2 separate regions of the Homo sapiens genome follow, and region 2 is linked to region 1. Evidence: fine-mapped expression QTL. A gene starts in region 1. The other region holds a variant in brackets. All regions are shown on one strand. Distances are between the middles of the regions. Region 1 holds the start of LCN2 (lipocalin 2). Region 2 overlaps ZER1 (zyg-11 related cell cycle regulator).

What was found. PIP is the estimated chance that this variant, and not a neighbour inherited with it, causes the effect. A credible set is the group of variants that fine-mapping cannot tell apart.
Region 2: its variant is the best candidate, but not a certain one, in a credible set for the expression of LCN2 in whole blood (INTERVAL, PIP 0.68).

What each region holds. Positions count from the first base shown.
Region 1 is chr9:128,147,892-128,151,891 of GRCh38, reverse strand. LCN2 (lipocalin 2) reads right to left here and starts at 2,439. Exons shown (of 7, transcript NM_005564.5): 1 at 2,229-2,439; 2 at 1,518-1,654; 3 at 175-254. The coding sequence starts at 2,366. RefSeq lists a silencer at 1,040-1,089.
Region 2 is chr9:128,729,752-128,734,263 of GRCh38, reverse strand. ZER1 (zyg-11 related cell cycle regulator) reads left to right here. Exons shown (of 16, transcript NM_006336.4): 15 at 736-838; 16 at 2,870-4,478. The coding sequence ends at 2,927. It overlaps ZDHHC12-DT (ZDHHC12 divergent transcript), which reads right to left. Exons shown (of 2, transcript NR_046240.1): 2 at 1,021-1,422. Among named protein-coding and RNA genes, the nearest start is that of ZDHHC12-DT, 7.5 kb to the right of the region's middle. RefSeq lists enhancers at 1,070-1,570, 1,571-2,071, 3,865-4,512. The variant C/T (reference allele first, on the strand shown) is at 1,737.

The sequences.
Region 1 (4,000 bases):
GGTGAGGGGTCAGCCCTGCCCTGGATGGGAGGAGGGAGCTGTCCCCTCCCTCCCCAGCCCATCAACGTGGGCTTCTCCCCATACAACACATCTGTGTGGAGGGGCAGGAAGGTCTGTGCCCCTACCCAGCTCCCCGGAGCCCCAACTCAGTGCCCCACCTCACTCAAGACTCACTCTTAATGTTGCCCAGCGTGAACTCGCCGGGCTGGCAACCTGGAACAAAAGTCCTGATCCAGTAGTCACACTTCTTTTTCCTTGGGAGGGAGAGATGGGTGGGTGAGAGGGGAGACAACCCAGGCTTGGGCCTCCTGTGCTGGACAAGGTGGGGCCAGGGCAGCAGCAGGGTTCTGTTGCTCTCAGTCCGGCCCAACCCGTGACAGCTCATCCCCCACTACCTGGAGGGGCCCTACCCCACCCAGCCGAGATGGGCCTGGGCCTTCTCCCTGAGCTGACACCAGGCTGTCCCTCCTGGCCTGCCTGGGGCCCCTGGACCCCACTCAGACCCTCCAGCACCCGATGTCCTTCTTTCCTTTGGCTGCCTCCCTGGGTGGCTTTCACCCCCCCCGCCACCCAACACACAGAAACCCTGCATTTCTCCCCTGCACTCAGCTTGCTGCTTCCCTTCCTATACCCTCTCCCGGGGATCCACCTCGGTACTTCCAGTCTGCTCCATGCCAGCCGTTCCCCTAGCTCTCGGGTCAAACCTGACCCCATCCTTGAGTCCTCCCACTTCCCATCCCCTGGCACCCCAGGGCTGAGCTCCCCAACCTGTCTGTATTCTGCTCCTTGCTCCACAAATGCCCCAATCCCAATCCACTCAGCTGCCAGAGTCAGAAACCCACTGGGGGCGGCTGATCCCTGGCTCCCTGCCTCTTCACCCTGCGCCTGTTCTCTCACACCTGTGACGGCCCCGCTTCACTTTCGCTGGTCTCCCGACCCCCTAGGCTGCACCCCACCAAGTCTCCCCACCCTGCGGCCCAAGAGCCCTGCTCTAAGCCACTCCGCAGCAGATCCGCTGGGGCGGGGCCTGAGGACCGTGCTAGGTGCTAGCGTGGCCACCTGCCCCTCCAGGCTGCTCAGCAGCTCTGCTCAGGGTGACCCTGCGATGGCTTGCTCCTTCCTGAAGGGGGGGCTCTCTCTGACTCCAGCCCCTGCCGGGAACACCCCACATTTCCTTTTGAAGCAGGTTGGCTCTTTTAAGGCCACCTCCCTGGAAGCCTTCCATGAAGGCACTGGGTGGGGTTCCAGGCTGGATCCAGTGTCCCCTCCTCCCGCTCCCAGGCACCCCTCCTCTCTCCGTCTTGTTTTCTAACGACTGTGCATGTCCATCCCCACCACTGTCTGTGTGTCTGCATGGAAATGTGCTATAAACGTTGCTCTAAGGAACAGAGGAAGGATGAACACAGATGAATTCCGGGCAGAACAGCGAGGTGAACGACAGGATCCCTCAGCTTTGGCCATCCCTTGCCTGTGACGTCAGTCTGACTCTCACACCCCCAGGAGATGTCGGCCCTCACCTAAACAGGACGGAGGTGACATTGTAGCTCTTGTCTTCTTTCAGCTCATAGATGGTGGCATACATCTTTTGCGGGTCTTTGTCTTCTCTGAGAATTGCATTCCCTGCCAGGCCTACCACATACCACTTCCCCTGGAACTGCAAGGGACTGATAAGAGGCACAACCCAGGAATGGCCCTAGGAGCCACCCCTCCAGCTCTGTCCCTGTGGCACCTCTGGGCCGCCCAGCTTGGAACCATGAGCCCCTCTAGCTGGGCAGCAGGGCCCAGGCTGGGCCTGCACTGGTGAAGGGGCAGGAGCAGGAGGCCATCAGTCCAGAAGGGAGTCCTGGGGGAAGAGGCGGTTCTGAGTCTGGCAGGGAGGAGGGTGACCTCCTCACTGGAGGAGGCATGTGGCTGGTGGGCCTTCCTGAGCCTCAGTTTCCTCATCTGTGCAGGGGGACTAAAAGTGCTCCCACCTTCTTTGGACAATGGGGGTTATGGGAGAGGGGATGTGGACCTGGGGGAGTCTGTTCAGGCTGAGAGGGGGTGGGGATGGGGGGAAGGGGCATGGTTTCCACCAGGGGACCCTGGTGGCACAGAGTGAGCTGAAACCTGGACCCTGGACTCCTAGAGTCCTGCCCAACGCTCTTCCTGAGTCTCTTCACCTCTCCTCCCCTCTGCTCCCACTCTTCCCCAGGCCCTGCCTGCAGGTGCCCCTCTTGGCCCCTTACTTGGTTGTCCTGGAAGTTCTGCTGCAGAGGGACCTTGCTCAGAGGTGGGGCTGGGATCAGGTCTGAGGTGGAGTCCTGGGCCTGGGCATGCAGAGCCCCCAACAGGGCTAGGCCCAGCCACAGGAGACCTAGGGGCATGATTTCAGGGCCGAGGAAGCAGGCGCTGTGGTGGCTGCTGGGCCTGGCAGGGGTGGAAGAGGAGGTGGCGAGTGAGAGGCTCACCTGGGTGGCCCTATTTATGGGATCTAGGGTGGGTTGATTCATTCTTTGCCAAGGCCAGGAATGTGAGGCAATTGCCAGCAACTCCTGCGGAAACACTTGGCAAGATTTCTGCACCTGGTCAGGATTGGGCAAGACAGAGGGACGGGGAGAGTGAGGGACATTCCCGGAGTGCTGCACCTCTGGCAGGGACAACGACTCCCTCTGTGCCTTCCTTGTGCTGTTTCTTTCTTCTGATTGCCCTGTATGTGGGCCGGTGGCCTGTGAGCCGGAAGAGCTGTCATCTCTGACCCCCCTGCTCAGCTGGATCCCAGGGTGGGGTATGTGCCCTGTGGTCCCCTCCCCACACCCACAGAAAGGAAAGAATGAATGCCTCCTTCCAACAGATCATGTGCTGTTTCCTGGTTCTTTTAAGGGTCAGGGAAGGGTGGGGTGGCTGACAGTGGACAAGGAAAAACAAGGCGTCTGCTCTGAACTCATGGAGCCCAGAATCATGGCCCTCCCAGGAGCCCCAGTCCAGGACCTGCATGTGCTCCAGGGGCCTTGAGACAGCCCCTTGCCCCTCTCCTTGCCCCATTTGCAGGAGGGGACCCCAGTGGACCCCTGAGGGACCCTTCCTCTCCTGTGAGTGCAGTGGGAAGAGACCCCACACAGGGCACATGGGTTGAGTGCTGAGGCTACAGTCCCTGTCCTGGGTGAGTTGGGCTGATGTGTGGGGGCGTGAAGGCGCCACACTGCTGCTCTGGACACCTGTTGCTTTGGGTCACTGACAGTGCAAGGATCTGGCCTTATCCTTGAGGTCACTGAGACCATCCCCCTGACTCTAGTCACAGCCTTTTTCCATTGAACCCAGCAGCCCAGGCCAGGGGTTCTGGAACTGTCACCGAGATGGCTGGTCCCAGCCTTGTCCAGCAGGGAAGCAGTTATCTCAACGGGGGCCTGGCTGGCATCCTCGGGAGGCAGCGATGGATCGTAGGCCCTGTGCAGTGTCCGCAGAGATGGCTCACCCATGAGGGCTGAGGCCGTCCTGGATGCCTGACCTGAGGCTGGACTGAGGGTTCGCTGGTTTTAGAGCTTTCAATGGGACTAACGGGGACCTCACTGGCTCTGCCTACGTGCTGCTTGGGATCCCCAATCTGGGCTTGGGGGCAGCAGGGCCTCAGGGAAGGGGCTCTGGGAGTCCTGAGCTGGGGTTAGTCTAGAGAGGCACCCACTGGATCCCTGCCCCCTCAGGCCCTGTCCTGCCTGCCCGATTGGATGATGAAAGGGCAGGAAGCAAAGATGAGTAAAACTGCAGGGGAACGATGTTGCACCAAAGCCTTCCCTTTCTAGAGGTAGCCAGTGGCTACTCGCTCCCTCCGAACCCCCTCTTCCCCTCATGACCCTGTTCCCAGGAACTCCACCTCTGCTACTGTCTTTGACCTTAAAAAGTATCCTCTGCCAGGCCGGGTGCGGTGGCTCACATCTGTAATCCCAGCATTTGGGAGGCTGAGGCGGGTGGATCACGAGGTCAGGAGTTCGAGACCAGTCTGGCCAACACGGTGAAACCCCAT
Region 2 (4,512 bases), 580 kb before region 1:
GATCGTGCCACTGCACTCCAGCCTGGGTGACAGAGTGAGACTCTGTCTCAAAAAAAAAATTATATCTATTATATATATATATATATTTTTTTTAAGATTTTATATATATATATATATATTTTTTTTTTTTTTTTTTGAGACGGAGTTTTGCTCTGTCGCCCAGGCTGGAGTGCAGTGGCGCGATCTCGACTCACTGCAAGCTCCGCCTCCCGGGTTCACGCCATTCTCCTGCCTCAGCCTCCCGTGTAGCTGGGACTACAGGCGCCCGCCACCATGCCTGGCTAATTTTTGTATTTTTAGTAGAGACGGGGTTTCACCGTGTTAGCCAGGATGGTCTCGATCTCCTGACCTCGTGATCCGCCCGTCTCGGCCTCCCAAAGTGCTGGGATTACAGGCGTGAGCCACCGTGCCCGGCCATATATATATATATTTTAAGATTATATATTTTATATATATATATATATAATTTTTTTTTAAAAAAAAGAATGAGCTCTGGAAATAAATGCAGCAACTTCAAACCAAGGAGTCACCTCTTGCCTCCCCTACATGGACGCAGAACTCCCACCCATGGGGCTGGGCCCACGTCTTGCCCCCATTTCTAGCACTGCCCCCACCAAGGGCTGTGCCTTCACACCCCCGACACCAGGATAGTCCTCACAGACAGGGTGGGTTTCTGGGCCTCGGGCTGATAAGAAGACCCATCCTGATCCTCTGCTGTCTGCTCCTATCCCACAGCGGACAAGTACTGCCCTCTGCTGATCAAAGAAGGGGGGATGCCCCTTCTGAGGGACATAATTAAGATGGCGACCGCACGGCAGGAGACCAAGGAAATGGCCCGGTAAGAGACCAGCAGTGTGTTTCTGCCTGGAACCTTGGTTTAGGGGAGTAAGGGCATAGCGGGCGCCCTCTGGAGGTTAGGAATGGCTGAAATTCCCAGGGACAGCTTAGAGTTGAGTATGGAGGTTGACAGTGTATTGATGTCCACCTGGGGCCTCTCCAAATGTCATCTCGACCACATTGTGGCTGGAAATTAGATGACCAAGCTCGGAACGGAGCATCAGGGCCCTCGTTTGTAAGCTTAGTTTTCTTTTATTCCCAACAAATTCCATCCTTTTATCACTGGGTATTAGCAAGTCAGGTCAGAACTATTCATTATTTTTGGCCAAAGACATTCCCACTAAAGAAGGGACACAGTGTGGTAAAATACATTCTAGAGATAAGATGAGGCAGAGTGCGAGTGAGTTTGCTGAATGTGAAGATCACAAACATGGTGGAGTCTCGGCCTTCCGTGGCTCTGTGGCTTTCACTGCAGCATCTAAAATGTCACCGCCTCCAGTTCTCGAGTTGATCAGGACACGAGAGACTCTCAGGGATGCGACGTGTCGAAATCGTCGAACGACCTTGTTTTCTCCAGGATTCATTCTAGAAGGGAGAACAGTCAAGCTGACCCGAGCACACTTTTTCATGGCTCTGTATAGAGCAAAAGTTCACATGGAGGAGGGGCCTGAAACTCAGAGGCTCCTCAGCCAGCCACTTCCTGGGCCAGGGGAGGGAAGTGTCAGCTGGTTCTGCTATTATATCTGGCCAAAGGCGCTACTGGCCAGGCGAAGTGGCTCACACCTGTAATCCTAGCACTTTGGGAGGCTGAGGTGGGTGCATCACTTGAGGTCAGGAGTTCGAGACCTGGCTAACATGGTAAAACCCCGTCTCTACTAAAAATACAAAAATTAGCTCGG[C/T]GTGGTGGTACGTGCCTGTAATCCCAGCCACTTGGGAGGCTGAGGCAGGAGAATCACTTGAATCCAGGAGGCAGAGGTTGCAGTGAGCCGAGATGGTGCCACTGCACTCCAGCCTGGTCAACAGAGCGAGACTCTGTCTCAAAAAAATAAAATTTAAAAATAAATGGACGGGGCCCACCCCTAGGTTTTCTTTTCCAGTACATCCGGGAGGTGGGAGGTGGCCCTGGAATTTTCATGGTTAACAAGGATTCCCGGGAAATTTGAGAAGCACTGGGTAAGACTGACCAGTTACCTACCACAGTCACTTTGAACATTTCTCCAAGGCCTGTGATGGGAATCTGAGGCACTGGCCTGTCTGACAGCAAGGAGTAAATGACCCTGGACAATGCTTAGGAGAAGGCCCTCGGCCTGTCCACTGACCTCTCTCCCACTCTGGGTATTTGTTTCCTAAAAGGTATTGGGGCATCCCTTTAACACACAGAGGCTGCAGTGAAGCCCCCAAACCACAGGCTTGGTGTTGAATGGGCAAGCTGTCCGGGGTCCAAGGTGACAACCAACAGTGATGGGTGGCAGGGGTCAGGCTGGGGCGGGCGAGACTCGAAATCTGAGCTGGAGTGCTGAGCCCTGGCTGCCACAGGGTAGTGGGGGCCCTTGTGCGAGCACAGCTGCCCCTGCCCGACCCTGGACCTGCCACTGGATCCGGGCCTCTAGGGGAATCTGATGTGCAGTCAGTTTGGGGACCACTGGTGGACTTCTGGAAAGAGAAGGGTCTAGTGTGCAGGGAAAATGAAGAAGAGGTCGCTAAAGAAACTTCCAAAGGGTTTTGGAGGTCGGGCCTGAGCTGATTTGGGGACCCCCTATCCACAGATGCCCTGGGACTGGGGGTGGGAGAAGAGGGGCATGGAAAGGAAGGAAGCGGAGGATGGCTGGTGATGGCATTCACGGCCACAGGTGCCATTCCCTGAGTCCCCTGCACATGCCAGCCACTCTGCCAGCCCCTCTGTCCACATCATTCGGTCAGCATCACCATCACTATGAACACGTGTTTACCCAGCTGCCTAATGATCTCGGAGGGGCTGGGCTCACCCCCACCCAAGCCCACCCTCCAATCCTGTCTCCCCCATTGTCTCCAGCAAGGTGATTGAGCACTGCAGTAACTTTAAAGAGGAGAACATGGACACGTCTAGATAGAGGCCTCCGTCCCCATGGCCGCCACCGCTCTGGACCACAGGCGGGGAGGAAGCATGCTCAAGCAGCCCAGCGGGCGGGCCCCTTCCGAGGGAGCCTCCCACGGAGTGAAGAGACATGGGGGACTTTTGCACAACCGACGCTTTTCCTTAATGTTAGTGAGATATATATATATTATATATATATATTTTTTTTTTGGTTAGGAAGTGTGAAGTTTTGTGTGTATGATTTCTGTGCAAAAACAAAAGCAACACTCCTGAGTCCTTGCAGCTTCCTTGGCCATTCTCAAACCCACTCAGCCTTCATCGCTGACACACACACTCCTACCCCAACCAGACTAAATGCCTATAACGCTGTGAGTGTCCAGTCCTTGTCCAGGAAACTCAGATCCCGGCCTGGCTTCCTTTCATGAGAGGAGCAGGCCTTGGACAGCGTATCGAGCATCCTGACCCACTGCCCCTGCCTGAGAACGCCATCTCGGCTCCCGGGCACAGCTGATGGGGTTTGGGGATTAGAACTTACCCCACTGGGTCTCCCAAAAGCCTTGGTGCTCCCGGCTGTGGGCCATCTGGGGCAGGAAAGTGAGCCATTCCTAGGCTGAGGTCCAGGCAGCCCTGCCCCTGAAGACCCTCTAGGAGCAGGGCACCCAGTGGCCCTGCTGCTGTCCAGCCAGGCCTGCCTGAGGCCACGCTGCTATGGAGGCTGCCTCCTAGTCTCCCACCAGGTCCCAGGCTGTGGAAAGCCCCAGCCCAGGGATGGTCAGAACTCAGGGGCAGATTCCACTGCCCCTTCTGCCAAACACATCCAGAACCTGCCCTCAGCCCTGGAAGCTAGCATCTTCTGGGGCCAGGGGCTTGCTTCCTCGCTCCATAGCCCTCAACTGCCCAGGCGCTCCCACCAGCAGAACTGAGCCTGCCTCCTCCTCCCAGCCTGCCCCGCTGCCCAGAGGACCCCACGCCTCTCAGAGGCAGAGGTCCCATGACAGCCTTTGACCCACAACGGCCACACAGCCGCCTCCAGACCAGCACTCGGACTGCCCTGCAGTGGCCGCTTGGGCCTCCCTGGCGGTCCCGCCCTGCCCTAGGCTTTACCTTGGAAGCCTGAGAGGCGCCGGCTCTCTTGCTCCTCCATCGATGGACACTGCATTGCTTCTCATCGGACACTTGTGGAGCGCAGGGGCCTGGGGAGCAGCGCTAACCCTGGAGGCAGCCTTTGGGTGATGGCTTTTTCTTCCCTTTTCCTCCCGCGGGCCTGTTTTCAGGTGTTCCTAGCATTTCTGCCTCCAGGCAGGACGGCAGGGGTGAGCAGCTTTGGGAGAGACACCTGGCCTTTTTCTCCTGGAGCCTCTCCCTCCCGGCCCTGGGAAGTGGGCGCAGCCCTGTGTTCCCCCAGCTTGGCAGATGGGCTGCATGCGGCGCTCCCTTCCTTCCCACGCTCAGCGGCCCCGGCCAGACCCTGGCAGACTTCACACCTCATTGCTTTACCCCCTGGGGCCTGGGGAAATGTCTGTACTTTGGGAAGTCACAGAAATACATTTTTGTGCAAAATGGAAAACAGAGCGTCTTTTTTTGTGGAGGGGATTGCTAGC